Linked DNA regions of Homo sapiens: region 2 is linked to region 1. The links come from fine-mapping of genetic effects on gene expression. A gene starts in region 1. The other region holds a variant in brackets. All regions are shown on one strand. Distances are between the middles of the regions. Region 1 holds the start of C8orf58 (chromosome 8 open reading frame 58). Region 2 overlaps BIN3 (bridging integrator 3).

Region 1 (8,317 bases):
AAACCAGCCCCTCCTGACTGGAGGAGAAGGATGCCTATCAGTGACCATTTCTAAGAGACATTCCTGGTCTGACTCAAGCCAGTGACCACCATGCCTAGCCAGTCAGGAATCAGTGCCCTAATTCTCAAATATGAAATCTAAGAGGCCTCAATGAAATGACCTGCTCAAAATCTTGCCAGGAGACTGGCCATTTTAGTCCCCATTAGCAATCCCAGCCCCCCCTTATCCTCCGACCTCCCCATCATCACTCCAGCCTTACTTTCCCCTTTCCTATTCACCTGAGGTTTACAAAGCACTTTGAGGCAGTTTAATCTCACTTTATCCTCATAACAAGTCTGTGAGGTAGATAGGGCAGGCATCATTATTCCCAGCGGGAAGCTGTGGCTCAGAAAGGTTGACTTGGGGTCTAAAAACTAGTACAGGCATCTGGTTTGAATTAAGACCTGTAAACGCTAGTACGGAGCAGAGAAGCTGAGCACTGGCTTTGAAAGTTATTCAGTTCCCAGGTTGTCCCTGATCTTCCTCATTCCTTGTGCAGTCTTCAGGAGTCCGGGGCAAGATTCCATGCAGAGGCAGCCAAAGCCACACCGTTCTCTGTCCCAGGGCTGCCAGCATGGCTCTGAGGAGGAAAGCTCAGTAACTGCCCACTGGGGAATAAAGGTCAGTTCCATCCTTCTGCAGTGACCTCCCCCAGAATATCAACCCTTTGGATGCATTATTTCAGAAGAGATGGTTGGATCCAGCCAGCTTGCAACACTGACAGTCACACAGAGATATGCATACCATTGCGCATAAATACACATCTGCAACATGCTGGGCCCAGACAGGTCACCATGCCAAAAACACTCCACGGACACCTGACAATGAGTGAGTTCACATTGTGGAAGCCCAGGGATTTCTGGTGAGGAGGAAGAGCCCTGGAGCTGCGGCATCTTGGGGGCCTCTCAAGAAACCAAGGTTCCTGACCAGACTGCTTAGAGGAGAAAGATTCAGCCCTCGACTCAAGAGAGGAGGGCAGGCGTCAGCAGCTTTTCCTGGCAATGTGGAGAAGCAGCAAGAGGGCAGAGGGCGAGGAAGACTTCACAGCAAGTCCCCTCCACCCAGGGTCACCAGGTGCACCGAGAGGTCTCAGCCTACAGAAAGGTTTTTTGCTCGTTGCTTCTTAACCACTAATGATGGCATAAAGGTCTTCCGGTGGGGGCGGCACTGAGGCCTTTCAGGGAGGTCCCTGGACTCGATCCTGTGGAATGAAAAGAAGACATTAGGCTAGAAGGGGGAAATAAAACTAACAATGGCCCTAGAGTTGAGAGAACGTGGTTTATCTGCTGGTGGGTAGCTGGGTGTGGGCGCAGCCCGGGGCTGTTAAATGACTTGGTATTTCTTCCTCCTGGAGAACGATTCAATACAAGCCCCGAAGCATGATGGCCTTCACCCACTGTGAAATCCTTTGTGCTCCACCTTGCTCTCCCCACGAACCTGGAAGGTGGCCTAAATGTCAGCATTGAGGGTGAGGGGTTGCTGAGCTAGGGTAGGCAGATTTCCCACATTCTGGTCCTAGCTGTCACTGACTCACCGTGCGGCTTTGGAAAAGCAACTACCCCCAACCCCACCCAGAACCCTGCCTCCTTATCTGTAAATGGGGTGTTTTAACTACTGTTTCTTCTAGCAGCCCCTCCCAGACTGCCTCTCAAGTTTTGCGGGGACAATAATGACAACTGGCATGACAATCTCAGCATCCTGGCTTATCAGTCTCCTCTCCGTGCCCTAACCTGGGCTGGGCACGGGGCTCACCTGGGGTCAGAGCCATCAGGAGGGGCAGGGGGCTCAGGGTGGTGGTGGCTTCTCCGGCAGATCCGGTTGAGCAGGACCTTGACCTTGTCCCAGTGGGAGATATCCCGCTGAGCAGAGGATGAGGGGTCACCCAGAGCCCTCCCCACACTCAGACCCCCGACCAAGCTCCCAGAGACAGCTGTCGCCACAGCCAGGACAAGTCGCCTGCTCCAAACAGGAATCAATCCTGTCATTTCCCCAGAGTTGCTGGCCCCCAGGGTGCCCATGCATCCCCCACCTCCCCTCCCCCCACCCCAGCCCACCACCTGCCCCACATATACCTGTCCCCTACCTTGTGTCCCTGGGAGGATGGCAAGTGGTACGTTGGCTCCACTGGGGTTTCTGGCAGCCTGGGAGGGTTGGCACTGGGCACCTCCACCTTTGGGGGTGAAGCAGCCTTTGCTCCTTCAGAAAGACAGTCAGGTTGGCCAGGGCCAGAAGACACCCCATCAAGCTTCGGCTCAGAGGACCTGCTGGTGGGACCCCAGGCAGGCAGGACAAAGGGAGACACGATGGCCCCTCACCTGTGTGCTCTGTCTGGCTTAGCAGCTCCCATGGCCCCTGCCCCCGATTGCCTGGGGTGTGTAACGGGGACGGTAAAGGGGCTCGGGTCGACTCCTCCTCGCCGGGATCCTATGCACAGGAGAGACAGGTGATCAGGGCCTGGCTAGAGGGCTGAAGCTGCTCTGAGGGCAGCCATGGTTCCCAGGGTCCCATCTGTCCTCTCCCTCCCCCACTCGAATCTCACTCACCCCTGGGGGCCTCTGGATCCGCAGCTGCAGGTAGAGCTGCTGGAGCCTTGCCATCTGCTCCAGCACCAGGCACAGGTGTTCCAGATAGCGAAGACCCTGCCCGGGGAGGCAGGCCCAGGCTCCAGGCCCCAGGCCCCCCACCTGTGGGACATTGTGAGATAGGGGAGATTTCAGCCAGTAGGGCTCCTGCCCTACCCTAAGCAGCCAGGCTGGGCTCAGCCAGCAGATGGGAGCAGAGTGGGCCCCGAGGAGGAACACACGCAGCCGGCTTCCCCACTGCCCAGCGGGGCATAGTGCCAGGAAGGGCCCCCGTAGCTGCCCACCTCCTCTGCAGAGGTGGCCGTGCACAAATGGAACTGGGGTGCAGAAAGAACCTATGACACAACCCATCAATTAGGGGCAGGGAGTGCCCCACCCAGAGAGAGCTCCAGGGAGAACCAGAGGAGCTAGGCTGTCCATCCCACTCTTAAACCCAGCCTGAGAGTGAGCACTCACCGCCTCTTCTTCCAGGCCTGCCTCTAGGTCTGTGTCTGCCTCCATGGACTCCTGTTGCCCTGCTCCAAGGGGCACTTCACGCTCAGGCTTGCTTGCCAGCCGCAGGGAGCGGTGTTGTCCTGACAAGCTGGTGGGAGCTGTTGGGAGCCGGCGGGACCGCTCCAACACCTCCCCCAGCTTCTGGCTGGCCAGGAGTCGGCCTACCTGGGCGGGGGGCTCAGAACTCCCTGAGGATTCAAAGTCCAGGGAGTCCTGAGAAAGGCCCGGTAAGGCGGCCAGGGGGCTGTCCCCAACTGCCATCTCCACTCCTGAGTCCCGGGAGGCCAGTTTGAGAAAGAGTGCCTCCCTGCCGACACCTCTGAACTTGTCACCTCTCTCCCAGGATGAGCACCCGTGGGCAGCGTCGGGGATCCGTCTGTAGGTGCTGGTGACTCCAGGCACTATGCAGCCCCGTGCCAGGCCCTCGCCAGCCCCATCTGCATGGAGAGTCAGCGTCAGGCTGGGCAGGCCACCCCCAACACCCCCAGCATTCCTGAAGGCTGGCAGCACTGCCCCAGGGAGAAGTGTCCCGGAGCAGTGAGGAAGGGCGGTCACTGGACAGCCACGGGCAGCCCGGATATGGCCCCAGCTGTCTGGGAGATGTGTGGATGGGATTCCCTTCGCAACGGTTGTTAGCGACAGGGAACCCGTGCTCTGAGCTGTGTGGTAGGCAAAGCCCTGGCAGGCCACATCCATCAATCCCTTAGACGGCCTGCGCCTGCGCTTCCCACCTAGGATCAGCCCACGATCTCCCGAGTCAGAAGTAGGGAGCCACAGGCTCTTCCGCTGCTCCCCAAGCGGGAGTAGGACTGTATCCAGCTTCAGGGAGAGGGGAGAGGGTACAGAGAGGAAAGCCTGGGATCCAACCTGCTCTCTGGGGGCCCCTGCGGCATCAGGATGCCAGGTGAAGTCTCTCCTGCAGCTCACCGGGAGAGTGATAAAAATCACCGCTATAACCGATTTGGGCTTTTGTTGTAAGTGAGCAATAGTGAAGATTTTATGAAAAGTTTAAAATGAAAGAACTGAAGTGAAAGAAAGGGACGAAGGGGCAGCATTAGCACCCCCTCACTGTCACCTCCGCCAGGCCCTCTGGCGACGGGGCGTCCTGGCGGAATGAACGGTACGGGAAACAGGCTAGGGGGGCGGGGACGAGCTGCGGGGCACGCGGGAGCCGAATGCCAACCCAGGCCCCTCTGGGCAAGGAAGTGGGCCAGGAGGTCACTGGGTGGGAGAGGGGTCCGCAGCCACGGAGGGGGCTGGGGCGCGGGCGGATTCCCACATCCTCAGAAGGAGCGGGAAGGCGAGGGAAGCGGAGCCGGAGGAAGTGGGGCGGAGGCGGTGGCTGGTTTAACGCCTGGGCCCAAAGGGGTTCCAGCCTGCATGGCGTCCCCTGATGACCGCCCCTCCAGGGAGGCGGCGAGGGAGGCGCAGCGGCGCGGGCTCCGCCCGCGGGGTGCGCGGGGCTGGGCAAGAAACTGAGAGAGGGTGCCCGGCTTGGGGGCGGGAAGCGGCTCCGGGGCAGGGGGGAGCCCGGCCAGCCTGGGGGTGGGTGACTCACCCCGGCCGTCCACGGCGAAGGCGCGCCGCCGGCCCATCATGGCCCGCTCCCGGCCCCGGCCCCGGCCAATGCAGCCGCCCGAGGATCCCGGCCCGAGTCCCCGCGGAGCTCGGGCAGCTCAGGGAGCGCGTCCCGACCCAGCTGGGCGCGGCCCCCAGACACTCCCAGCGGGGCTGGGGGGGCGGGGAGCGGGGCTGGGGGGGCGGGGGGCGGGGCGGTGGGGGGCGTGGCCTAGGGGGAGGAGAGAGGAAGAGCGAGACGAGGAAGGGAGGGGCGAGGAGAGAGGGGAGGGGCGAGACGAGGGAGGGGAGGGGCGAGGCAAGGTAGGGGAGCGGCGAGAGGAGGGGAGGGGCGAGGGGAAGGGGGAGGGGCGAGGAGAAGGGGGCGAGGAGAAAGGGGCGGGGCAAGACGAGGGATGAGAGGAACGAGGCGAGGGAGGGGAAAGGAGAGGGAGGGGAGGGGCGAGGAGAGGGAGGGGAGGGGCGAGGAAGAGGAGGGCGAGGGGAGGGGAGAGGAGAGGGTGGGGAGGGGAGAGGGAGGGGAGAGGGGAGGGGCGAGGAGAGGGTGGGCAGAGGAGAGGGAGGGGAGAGGGGAGAGGGGAGGAAAGGAGAGGGGAGAGGGGAGGAGAGGAGAGGGGAGAGGGAAAGGGGAGAGGAGAGGGAGGGGAGGGGAGAGGAGAGGGAGGGGAGGGGAGAGGAGAGGGGAGGGGCGAGAGGAGGGAGGGGAGGGGCGAGAGGAGGGAAGGCAAGGGTGCCAGGTGGGGGGCGCAGGTGGCCGGGTCGCCAAGAACGAGGTCGAAGGCACGGACTGGGTGGCGCCCCCAACTGTGGCTGTGGCCAAAATAAGGGTCCCGATCAGCTGTTCTGCGAGGACCCGGCCCCCGCCTGGGGACGCCGTCTGGCTCGGGGCGCCGGTCCGCCCGGCCCCGCGGGTTCACACGCAGCGTCCGTCTTCCTGCCGCGGACTTAGAGCCGGGGCTGGCTGGAGGACCGGACAAGAGCCAGGAAGGAAATGGGAGCCCCACGTGCTGGCGGTGGGAAGAGCGCTGACCAGGACGCGGGCACCCGGCGCTCCCTAGCAGTGTGGCTTGGGGGCCAGTCTCTTGGCCGCTCGGAAACCTGGGCGATGGGAGGGGAAACGATCCTGCCCACCGGGAAATCTTTTACAACTGCAGAACGCGCGTGTGTCCTCAGCTAGATCTGAACCCCCTCCCGGTCCCCTGCCTCTTTCTCATCCCGGGCTCCCTAAAGCTGGGGACTGGGTAGGTCTCAAGGTCTGGAAAGATGCGAGCCAGCGGGGAGCCGCCTGGAGACTGGGCCAAAGTGTAAATGTCCCCCTGTTCCCACCTCACCCTGCCTTTGGCCCGTGGGATTCCACCCCTCAGTCCCCAACCTAAAAGGAGCCCAAGAAGCTACTGAAGATGAGAGAGAGCCTGGTGACCAGACTGGGGCTGGTGTCCTCTAAAGAAGGCACCTCCTCCAGAGGGAGGGGGCAGGGCTGGAAAAATCCCAGCAGGACCCAAATCCCCCGGAGGCAGATAAGGGAGCTGGAGGACGTGCAGACTAGCACCTGGACCTCTAGGGGAGGGGAGAGGCTGGAGCCAGAGCCACTGGAAGGAAGTGGCTGTTTACCGGGAGGGGTAAGACAGTCTGTGCATCCCCTTCCCTTTGCTCCTTTCTGGAACCAGTCCCCAAACACCCACTGCAGGAGCCTTTATCAGAGAGCCACAAACTATCAGATTTTAAAACTTTATAAAATGGGGAAACTGAGGCCCACAGCCAATCTCTGCGCAGGCCAGCCGAATGACAGCCAAGTGCCAGAATTGCTGGCCATGTCTCAACAGAGTCACATTCAAGCCCAGGCCCTTCCCTGCTAGCCATGGGTCCTCTGGGTTGCCCCCACCCTGCCCAGTCCTCCTAGACAGTACCCATTCCGCTTCTCACAGGCAGAGAGAGAACCAGAGTGCTGGGTCTCCAGGAACTGCCTTATGCAAGACCAAGAAGATGTGTGGAATCACACCCCGGCCGTGCCAGAGCCCTGCCAGCCCTCCCTGGGTAGGAGGGAGCCCAGACTCCCTCCAAAGTAAGAGGGTGGGGGAGGGAGCCTTTGCCAGATCGCGCCCTGAATTTGGAGAATGTGGGGCGGGATTCCAAACAGTCTCTGTGGTGACTCTGGGACAGGAATGCATCTGGAAACAGGAAGCCCAGCCAGCAGGAATGCAGTGTCTCAGCACAATGCTTTGTGTGTGACTCAAAAGAACCTCCACACACACACCCCAACACACACTCCCCTCCAGGCCATGGCGCACCCCTCCTCCCCACCACCGCCATGCAGATGCGTCCTGGCCCAGGACCAGCTCAGAGGAACCTGAGCCCTGGCGGGCACGGGGGCAGGATCTGACCCAACACCCAAAGTAGGGGGATGCCCCCTTCCTGTGGCAGCCGCAGTCCCAAGCCTAGAGCCAGGCCAGGGCTCTCTGAGTGATGCTTGAAGGAATGGGAGGGGCAGCCCGTCCATGCACTCCTGACAAGGTAAACCACTGCCATGAGTTCCTGAGACAGACAGTGTCCTGAGCAGGGTCAGCCCTCAGGCTGCCCAGTGGCCCCTGCACTTCCCATGGGGAAGTCCTGGCTTCAGGAAGTGGGTTTCCTGCAAGCTCAGCTGGAGCTAGTACCCGTGGGAGGAAGCACAAAGCTGAGAGCCTACAGAGCGCTGGGGAGGGCTGTGGTGACCTCCAGTTGTGACCAGAGGTGACCAGAGCTGTGCCTGGAAGGCTGCCTCTGATGACAGAGGGACAAACTCTGCCCCCCACAAGCCAGAAACCTGGGAGGCAGGCTGTAGATCCATTCCTTACTAGCTAGGAGTACTTGGACCATTTACTGAACCTCCTGGTCCTCGGTTTCCTCGTCTGCAGAGAGGATGGTAACAGTACCTATCTCGGGTTGTGAGGATTAAGTGAGTTAAAGCATTGGAAGTATCCCTAGCACATCAAAAGCACCCCCAGAGCTTAGCCATTATGACTGTCTAGCTGTGCAGCTTTGGAAAAGTCACTTTCCCTTCTCTAACCAAAGGGGGTTGTACCAGATGCTCCTTTGGGCCACTTCTAACTCTAATCTGTCACTTCAGTTAATCTCCTCAGTGCAGGAAGGGAAGAGGGCACTGCACTGGACAAAGTCCGGGAACATAGACGGGCGGCGTGCGGCAGAGGGAGTGGGAGCACGCAGCTAGCTGGCTTAGGTTGGGGACAAGATCAGAGGTAAAAGACCAAAAACTGCCTGTCCCCAGCCTCCTCTGCTGACCAACTCATAACTCCGTTCTTCCAGGGGAGTTTGCTCCCGAGCCGGGCTGATTGTGTGGCTGCAGAGAACCCTGGTGCTGAAACCCTCAGGACCCCTGGGAGGAGAGATGGCTGCCACACCAAAGAACAAGAGCCAGAGGGGGATTTGAGCTGGAACCTACAAAGCCCTCAGAAGGCATTCGATGCCTCACTGGAATGCCCATCATTTCACATGTCCCCAGTCCCCACTTATCCCCCTCCACTCCTATGACACTGCTGGCCCAGCATGGCGTGCTACATACAGGTGGGAATCTGTCCATATCAATAATCCAAACCATCTTTTCCAACCTGTCACTTCTCTGCTTA
Region 2 (8,317 bases), 34 kb before region 1:
AGGCTGTGGAGCCAGGCTGCCTGGGTTCCATTCCCACTGTGCTCAACTCTACCCCTCACCAATGGGGTGACCTTGGCCAGGGTACGTAACCTGGTTCCCGGTGACCTGCCTTGGAGATGAGTGTAGAGAACTGCATTCTTGTAAAGCACACAGTGAGGGCTCTGTGAATGTGAGTTAGCGGTTTTGACTTCTCAGAGCACGAAGCCCGAAGCTGGCACCTGACGGCTGCAGCTCTGGCCAGGGAGGGCAGGCCTCTAGCTTAGTCTCCTTTGCCTCTCGATGTCATTTACTTCCCATTGCATGCCCATAAGAGACCAATCATGAGGCTCCGTTTTACAGATAGTGAAGTCAAGGCACCAGAAGAAAGTACTAGACTTCTTAACTTCATCTTCCGCAACAAGTGCAGCCCCGGGTTCAGGACTCACCCATTTGGTTTCAGTGTTGCTGGCTCTCAAGAGAGTTGATACCCGGTCGGGAATGGAGAGAGCCTGACCTGAGTCAGTAGTCACAGTGTCTGTGTTTGATGCATCCCAATCACAAAGCACAGGTGCACGATTGTTCCTGACCCACCCTGAGCCCAGCAGGGGCAGGTGGCCCTGAGTGGAGGGCCGCGTAGGAGGGGAGGTGCCCTGCATGGACCTGGAAACTAGGAAAAGGCAGAGACAGACCCCCAATTCCAGACCCGCCCTCTCCTCTGCACTCTGCTGCCTTCCTGGATGGGGTCCAGTCACGTTCTGAGCACCCTGACTGCCTCCAGCCTGGGGTGAGGAGGGCATGCAGCGAGTGCCTTGCTCCCAGCTGGGAAGAGCAGAGCCACAGTCCGCTGGCACCTGCCTGGCTGGACCCTCTGGGAGGGGAGCCTTCCTCCGTAATTCAAACACTTAATTAACTTGGGATCTCAGAAATACCGTGTCAGGAGCGATCTGTCGGTGCTTGTGTGAACTGGACCATGTTGTTTTCTGCGGACTGGGGCAGGGTGTGGAGAGAGTTTCAGGAGGCTGGGAGGTTTTTTCCACCGTGTTGTCATTTCTCCGATAATTGAGTTATCTCTCTCGTTTCAGGTGGAGAGAGACTTTGAAAGGGAGTATGGAAAACTTCAGCAGTGAGTGTCAACCCCAGAAAGATGAGGTGGGAGGCAGGGAGGGACAAGGGCCCCCTGCCAGGTCTCACCTGTCTGCCCCGTGCCCTGCCCCGTGAGCACCCTGGAAGCTGAGGGCAGCTCAGGTCACCAGGCTGCTGGAACTGTTCCCTGGCAATGGCCATGTGAGAGTCATTCACTCATAGCCTTTGGGTGTAGTGGCACTTCAGTCAGCGGGAAAAGTCCCCGTGGAGAAGATCCCTTTCTCCTCCTCCTTGGCAGGCCCTCCAGAGCACCTGGGCTTCGCTCAGGTAGGGGGAAGGAAGGGGACCCCAAGCAGCCCGTCCCCTGCCTTGCAGGCTGGAAGAGCAGACCCGGAGGCTGCAGAAAGACATGAAGAAGAGCACCGACGCAGACCTGGGTAGGTGACTTTCCACCCGCACCACTCGCTTGAGCAGGTGGGGCAGAGGTGGGCACCCTCCTCTCTCAGCCCCCCAAGGGCTCTGAAGTTGCTGCGCTCAGAGGACGTGTACCCAGTGTCCTGAGAAGCAGCCTCAGGGCAGTCACTCCTCACCAGTCACATCCCACTTTGCACAGAGCTCGCACTGCCCCACTCTGGATGTGGGTGCTGGGGCAAGGCTCTCCTGGGACTCCAGTCAGGACAGTACAGCAGCTGGTGGAAGCTTCTGGTAGCAGATGCCTCCATTGCCTCAGAATCCTGGCCACCGGCTCAGGCTGTCCAGAGGGAAAGGGAAGCACATTCCTTCCCGCAGAAACGAGACTCCGTGGCCTGCTGGGACAGGCGCTCCAGTGGCAACAAGAATGGAAGCTGTCATGTGTTTAAACAGGAGGTTGGGTTAAAGTGTAAGGCCAGAAATACCCCAGATAATTCTATGATGACAAAGGGCACCGGGAGGTCCTTGGGAAGTGGGGGCCAGCAGGTGCTGGGAAACAGCCAGGGCCCTTGGGGAGGTTTCTTGGCTGGAGAGCTCTTGTTTGAAACAAGGAGGAACCAGGCCTGGGAGCCTAGAGACACAAGCAGGTCGGGAATAAGGGAGCATCCAGAGCCCTTGCTGCAGGCCATGTCCCAGGAAGGAGGCGACGAGCAGCCGGGAGAGATGGAGACCATTCCTTGAGGTTCTTTCTCCAAGGCCTTGACTTTCCCACCCCGGAGCAGCAAGCACTTGACCAAAGGTTGATCAATAGCTTCAGCACTCCCTGCGCAGCTCTGGACAGCTGACTTAGCTCTACCTCAGTTCCGTCACCCGAGAAGCACAGGTAACGCCAATCCGAGTGGCACAGGCTGTTGCTGAAGATGAAGTTGGATGAGCAACGTAAAGCACTGAGAACAGGGCCTGGCACGGGTCAGCTCTCGGGGTGTCCGCTCCTGTCATCACCGTCGTCATGGTCGGCAGCAAGCCTCCCTGACTGGGTGGACTCCTGCAGCTCCTTCCCTGGGTCCAGTGGGGAAGCCGTGTCTATATACCACACTGGGACGAGGACCTGAAAGAGACTTGGGTATGGCCAGGACTGCCCACTTCCTCTCACTCAGCAGATGCTGACCGAGAACCCACGTGCACCAGGCACTCTCAGCACTAGAGACTCAACAGCAAGACAAGATGGGAGCTTACGTTCTAGGAGGAAGACCTGCAAGAGGTCCACAAGCGGATCGGTATATAATGACACGTCGTGGCGTGCAAGGTCAATAAAAATAAGGAGGTGGAGAGTGACAGGGTCAAGGGAGGCCTTCGTGGGGACGTGATCCCTGGGCAGAGTCCTGAAGGAATGAATAACCCACACAGGTAGAGCCAAGGGAAGAGGGCCTGAAACACAGTGGACAGCAAGCGCGGAGGCCCTAAGGTGGTGCACGCTGACCAGAGATGCAGGAGAGGCAGCAGGAGGGTGGAGAAGCCATCTTCAGTCCCCTCGGCCACTCCAGCTGCTGAATAATGCCATGTTATGGCTGTGAAGAAATTTCACCTCCCTGAGCTTTTCTGACCTTGAGATTGGCAGGGCACATGACACACCCATTTTATAAATGGGCATGTCCATTTGATAAAGGAGGAAGAGTTCAGCTCCTCTTCTCCAAGTCCAGGGCCTTGTCTCCACAGCGAAGCCTCCCCATGCCCCACTCATTCCTTTGCCCACCCCCGTGCCCGCCACCAAACTAGAAGGTGACCGAAACAGCCCCCACTCCGGAACCGTTGCCCATCCACTCTTTGCTTGGCTGTCTGTGAGCCTAGTGCAAATGGGGCGGCCTCACTGTCTCCTGACACCATTCAAAGGGCCACAGGGCAGTGGGCACCTACGGGTGGGACTTGAGGACCAGTGTGCTCCTACTTGGTACTGCAGTTACGAGGAAAACCCTTGAAATGTCCCAATAGAGGCAGTGATTTGAATTTGTTCCCATTTTATGCCAGCTCCTAAGCCTCAGCCAGTTACTGATGTGTAAACACACCTTTCCTACAAAGCACTGATCACAAAAGGAAAGCGTTCCTTCCCTGGGAGCCGCCGTCACCACCACCATGCCCGGGTGAGCGCTGACTGCCTGTGCAGGGACTGTGGCCGTCTTGGTCTG[T/C]GCCATGAATTTTCATGCCAGTGCTAATTCCTGGGCCGTGGGCTGGTCTGAACATGCACCTTGCTCCTGGCCTCTAGCGTTGCCAAACTATGTGTGTCACAAGCCAAGGACTGGATTTGGGAGTTTGTCTGCAGTTGTTTGTTTTGTAGTTATTTCAGGTCTGAGTTACTTGGGTCGCATTTTTCTTGATCGGTCCCCACTGCCTTTCCAGTTCGGGAGCTGCTGTGAGCCATTGCTTCCTTTCCTTCCTGCTTCTGCAGACAGCTGCATTGTCAGAGCATAAACGAAGCCAGGGTGTGCTGTGTTCACAGTGGCTTGCTACGGAACCAAGGAGGGCATCAGGGGTCCGTGACGCACCGTCCATGGCTGTGGAAAGCTTAGTTTCCCAGCAGAGAAACCAGAGTTGAATGGGTAACTGCAGAAGCCTAACACTACTGTCCTCAGTCAGGAATGGATGTGGGCAGAGACAGTGCCTCTGAAGAGCGGTGGTGGTGGTCATGGGGCCAAGGCGAGCCTGACAGCCACATCAGTCTCATGTACGGGGCATCAGTGTTGTAGGCGGGCTTGCTGTGCCGTGGGCCGCTGGGCCCCACCTCCAGCCTCCAACTAACTCATGAGCTGGGCGAGACCTGAAAATGTGTGTCCCTGGAGTTCCCAGGTGATGCTGAGGCCCACACTGTGAGCTCCACTGATCTGGACAGTTGAGGGGAATGGAGGGATGCTTTTCCTGAGCGTGGAATCTCCTGCGCTCCCCCAGCAAGGTGGAAAATCCCCAGTTATTCTAAAAAAGATGACCTTTCTTTCAGAAACTCATACTACTTTCAGAGTGCTCTGGTGAATCTTTGAATCTTACATTCCAGAGGCCGCATCAGGACTCCAGAGACCCGGGTGGGGTCCAAGACCCTCACTTTCTCTAAGGTTCAAAGATCACCAGCCTCCTGGTGTGGGCCAGGCTGACTGTGCCCCTCTCCCAGTCCCTGCAGGGAACAATGAGGGGTATGGGCTGGGGCAGGGACCACAGGTCCAGAGGGGCATGGAGACCTGCTGTTTATTTTTGTTGAGGGGGAACAGAGTCACACTGTGTCATCCAGGCTGGTCTCGAACTCCTGGGCTCAAGGGATCCTCCTGCTTCAGCTTCCCAAAGCACAGGGATTACAGGCATGAGCCACTACGCCCAGCCAAGACCATGGTGTTCTTGGTGTCATCTACCCCAGCTCTGCTCTGCTCACATGAAGCGGGGGCATCACTGGGCGGGGATTCCAGACCCAGTTCTGCCCAGGGCCGGCCACTGAGCCCACTCAGTTCCTTGACTTCCTGACAATGCAAGAGCTTTAGGAAAGAAAGGGGAAAATGCAGCTGGGCTGGGCGCAGTGGCTCACACCTGTAATCCCAGCACTTTGGCAGGCAAAGGCAGGTAGATCACCTGAGGTCAGGAGTTCGAGACCAGCCTGGCCAACATGGTGAAACCCCGTCTCTACTAAAAATACAAAAATTAGGTGGGTGTGATGGCAGGCACCTGTAATCCCAGCTACTTGAGAGGCTGAGGCAGGAGAATCACTTGAAGCCAGGAGGCGGAGGATGCAGTGAGCCGAGATGATGCCATTGCACTCCATCCAGCCTGGGTGACAAGAGCGAAACTCCGTCTGAAAAAAAAAAAAAAAAGGAAAGTGGAAAGACCGTGTCCTCGCTCCTCTGGCTTTTTGGGTTGTTTTCCTCAGATATTTTTTTAAGAAATAGCAGAAGATGTTTTTCAGAAACATTTCCAGCTTTATCCAGAATTTTATTATCTTTTTATTATGCTGTATGTGATCATTTCATAATCAAATCAAGTTATACGTAACGTTTGTTCCTAAATCTACAGAGTCACTCCACAGAATTTAAGAGGTGTTTTTCCCTCCGTTGCTTCAACATTTCTGGAAAGTTTACATTTCCAGCCTTCTCCCACAGTTTGCCCTTTTGCTGGTTGACTGTAGCACTCTCCCAGATTCCAGAAAAACCCCAGGAGGGTGCTCCGGGCTGGCTAGTCCGCTCAGCGCTGCTTTGCTGACTGGTGAAGGGGCCTGGCGGAGGCAGACCCTTCCCCGGGGAGCGCAGGGTCAGGGTTCAGGTTCATGCCATGGAGTGCTAGGCAAGGCCACATCTGTGATTAACTGGGAGGCAGACCTTATGTCATGGGTCCTAAGACACTTTTTCCACAGTTAATGTCTCTGAAATCAAAGTACTGAAAGTGTAGCCTGGTTTGATTGACAACAATTTTTTCTCCCTTAGTAGTTCATACAATAAGTGACTTATAATGAAGAGCATCTTAAATTCAGTAACATGCATATGGTAAGAAATGCATTCACAATGTGTCTTCTCTCCTGAGACCTGCCCCAGATGCACTCTGACACTGGTACAGACGGCATCAGGCCAGCATGACCCTTCTCCAGGGCCGCTTCCTGCCCCTCCAGAATTTTGTTTCTAGAATCTAGAAATAATGGAGGCCTGAAAACATGTTCAGGACCAAGAGCTCCAAAGCTGCCAGCAGGTCTCCAGCCCGCCTCTGAGCCGCCTGTGACTCCCAGGCTTCCCATCTGCCCAGCAGGGAATGTCAACACAGGAGGGAGGAGCACAGAGGGGTGGGCGGCACATTCATGGGGATCCGGTACCAGGGTGCCTTGAAAAACGTCAGTGGATGCCTGATGGACAGAGCCTGATGGACCTGTCCACTGGCTTCCTCTAGGCCAGATCAGAAGGAGAGCAGTGAACAGGGAAGCAGCTGCCCAGGGTCAAGGGTCAGGGCCCGGCTGGCGCACTCAGCCGTTTGACCTTGGAGGCATTACAAACCCTTTTGCGCCTAATCTGCCTCCTCGCTAAAATGGAACCAAACTACATTTCCGCTAGACATCCCCTGGGTTGTTTGAGCCCTAAATGAGAGTGCATGGGAACCTTGGCAGAACCCTAAGATGGGGACCTGCTGGCAGCTTTGGAGCTCTTTGTCCCGTACAAGTCCCCAGGTTTCCATTATTTACAAACAAAATTCTGGGGGAGCAGGAACAGACCCGGGAGGAGGGCCCTGCTGTCCCAGTCCCGCCTGTACCAGCTGCAGTGTGTGTCTGGGCGAGTCTTGGGGGAAAACACATTTTCCAGCGTATCTCTTCCTACTGGATATTGAGGAAACCAGGGGTTGGCAGGGTGCAGCTGCTGGCCTAATCTGACCTAGTTTTGTCAATAAAGTTTTATTGAAACAGCCACATCCCTTTTTTTATGTGTTGTCGCTGGCAGTTTTCACAGCACAAGGCAGAGTTGAGAAGTTGCAACAGAAATTGTATGGCCCACGAAGCCTGAAATATTTACTGTTGGGCCTTTTGTAGTAAAAGCATGTGTAAACTGGAGTACTGTTATTCTTGTCCATCCAGGAGTCCCAAACCAAGCATCACGTCCAAACCACTTGGAGAGCGGTTTTAAATGCATATTCTTGGGTACCGGGTTTACTGAATTAGAATCTTTGGAGCCAGAAACATATTTTATAGCCTCCCACCCAGATGGTCCTTTTCTAACCCAGGGTTTGGAGAACAGGTAAAGCGGCTCAAAAGAATTGTCTGGAGCAGTGTTAGGGTCAGGAATGAACATTAAACCATGGGGATCAGCAGCTTGTGGTTGTGTGGTACTTCGCCGTTCTTGACGGCCGTGGCTGTGGGAAGAGGTCTTCAGGGTGCAGGCCCCTGGCATAGGAGGACGGGGTCCTGGAGAGAAGGCCGTGAAACCTGCCCCTTCATAGAAGGTTCACCGAGCTTTGGCTTCCCACAGCCATGTCAAAATCTGCCGTGAAGATATCCTTGGACTTACTCTCCAATCCCCTCTGTGAGCAAGACCAGGACCTTCTGAACATGGTGACGGCCCTGGACACGGCCATGAAGCGGATGGATGCCTTCAATCAGGAAAAGGTGACTAGGTCTTGGTGTGGGGTGGGCAAGCATGACTTCTGCCCGGTCTGGGCCTCTGGGTGGACTGTGCGGGGAGGCCCGAGTGGGCTCCCTCTGCTCTCAGGGCTCTAAGCCCTCTGGCCTCGTGTGCTGCAAGGTGCTGCAAGCCCACAGGGCTCTTTCCAGACTGTTCTGCCTTGGCTCTACCTGCCTCCTGAGGCTCCACGAGCTCATGTTACTTACTGTGAGGGTTGCCGGCGGCAGTCCTGTTCACCCCAGCCCCTGAGGCTTCTGTGGCCAGCCACCCGGCCTCCACCCTGAGCAAAGCCAGGCCCAGGACAAGGACAGCACCCTGTGGCCCTTTAGACTTCCTAGCCCTTTGGTAGTTAGGGGCCCTGCCTTGCGTGTCGCCCTCCCCTCCCCACCAGTTTTAATGTCTTTGGGTTTTTCTTTGACAGGTGAACCAGATCCAGAAGACTGTGATCGAGCCCTTAAAAAAGTGAGTAAATGTCACCTGGGGGCCTCGGGGCACTTATGGGAGAGGCAGGTCAGCAGCCACTTGGGGACTGAAGAGGATTTCTAGCTGCGTGTCCCCAGATTCCCATGGGGCCTGACGGGAAACTCAGTGGGGACGTCAGCTCTGTGACCTGTGGCCTAAGCGTCCATGCTCCTGGGGGCTCCAGAGTACCCACATGGCCCAGGCGAGCTCAGGGTACCCCTGCCACCACCCCCTTCCCACCCCACCCAGCAACCGCC

What was found.
Region 2: its variant is fine-mapped to the expression of C8orf58 in blood mononuclear cells (TOPMed, PIP 0.98).

What each region holds. Positions count from the first base shown.
Region 1 is chr8:22,596,118-22,604,434 of GRCh38, reverse strand. It overlaps C8orf58 (chromosome 8 open reading frame 58), which reads right to left and starts at 4,836. Exons shown (of 7, transcript NM_001013842.3): 1 at 4,675-4,836; 2 at 3,078-3,553; 3 at 2,583-2,723; 4 at 2,355-2,463; 5 at 2,123-2,235; 6 at 1,792-1,898; 7 at 293-1,240. The coding sequence starts at 4,714. The coding sequence ends at 1,129. LOC107986876 (a long non-coding RNA gene) reads left to right here. Exons shown (of 1, transcript NR_160769.1): 1 at 1-1,302. It also overlaps a transcript of PDLIM2 not described here. RefSeq lists enhancers at 2,272-3,149, 5,838-6,585, 6,586-7,333 and silencers at 4,437-4,896, 4,927-5,026, 5,392-5,451.
Region 2 is chr8:22,629,707-22,638,023 of GRCh38, reverse strand. It overlaps BIN3 (bridging integrator 3), which reads left to right. Exons shown (of 9, transcript NM_018688.6): 3 at 1,062-1,102; 4 at 1,438-1,499; 5 at 7,446-7,582; 6 at 8,020-8,060. Among named protein-coding and RNA genes, the nearest start is that of BIN3-IT1, 8.3 kb to the left of the region's middle. RefSeq lists enhancers at 5,822-6,356, 6,357-6,891. The variant T/C (reference allele first, on the strand shown) is at 3,657.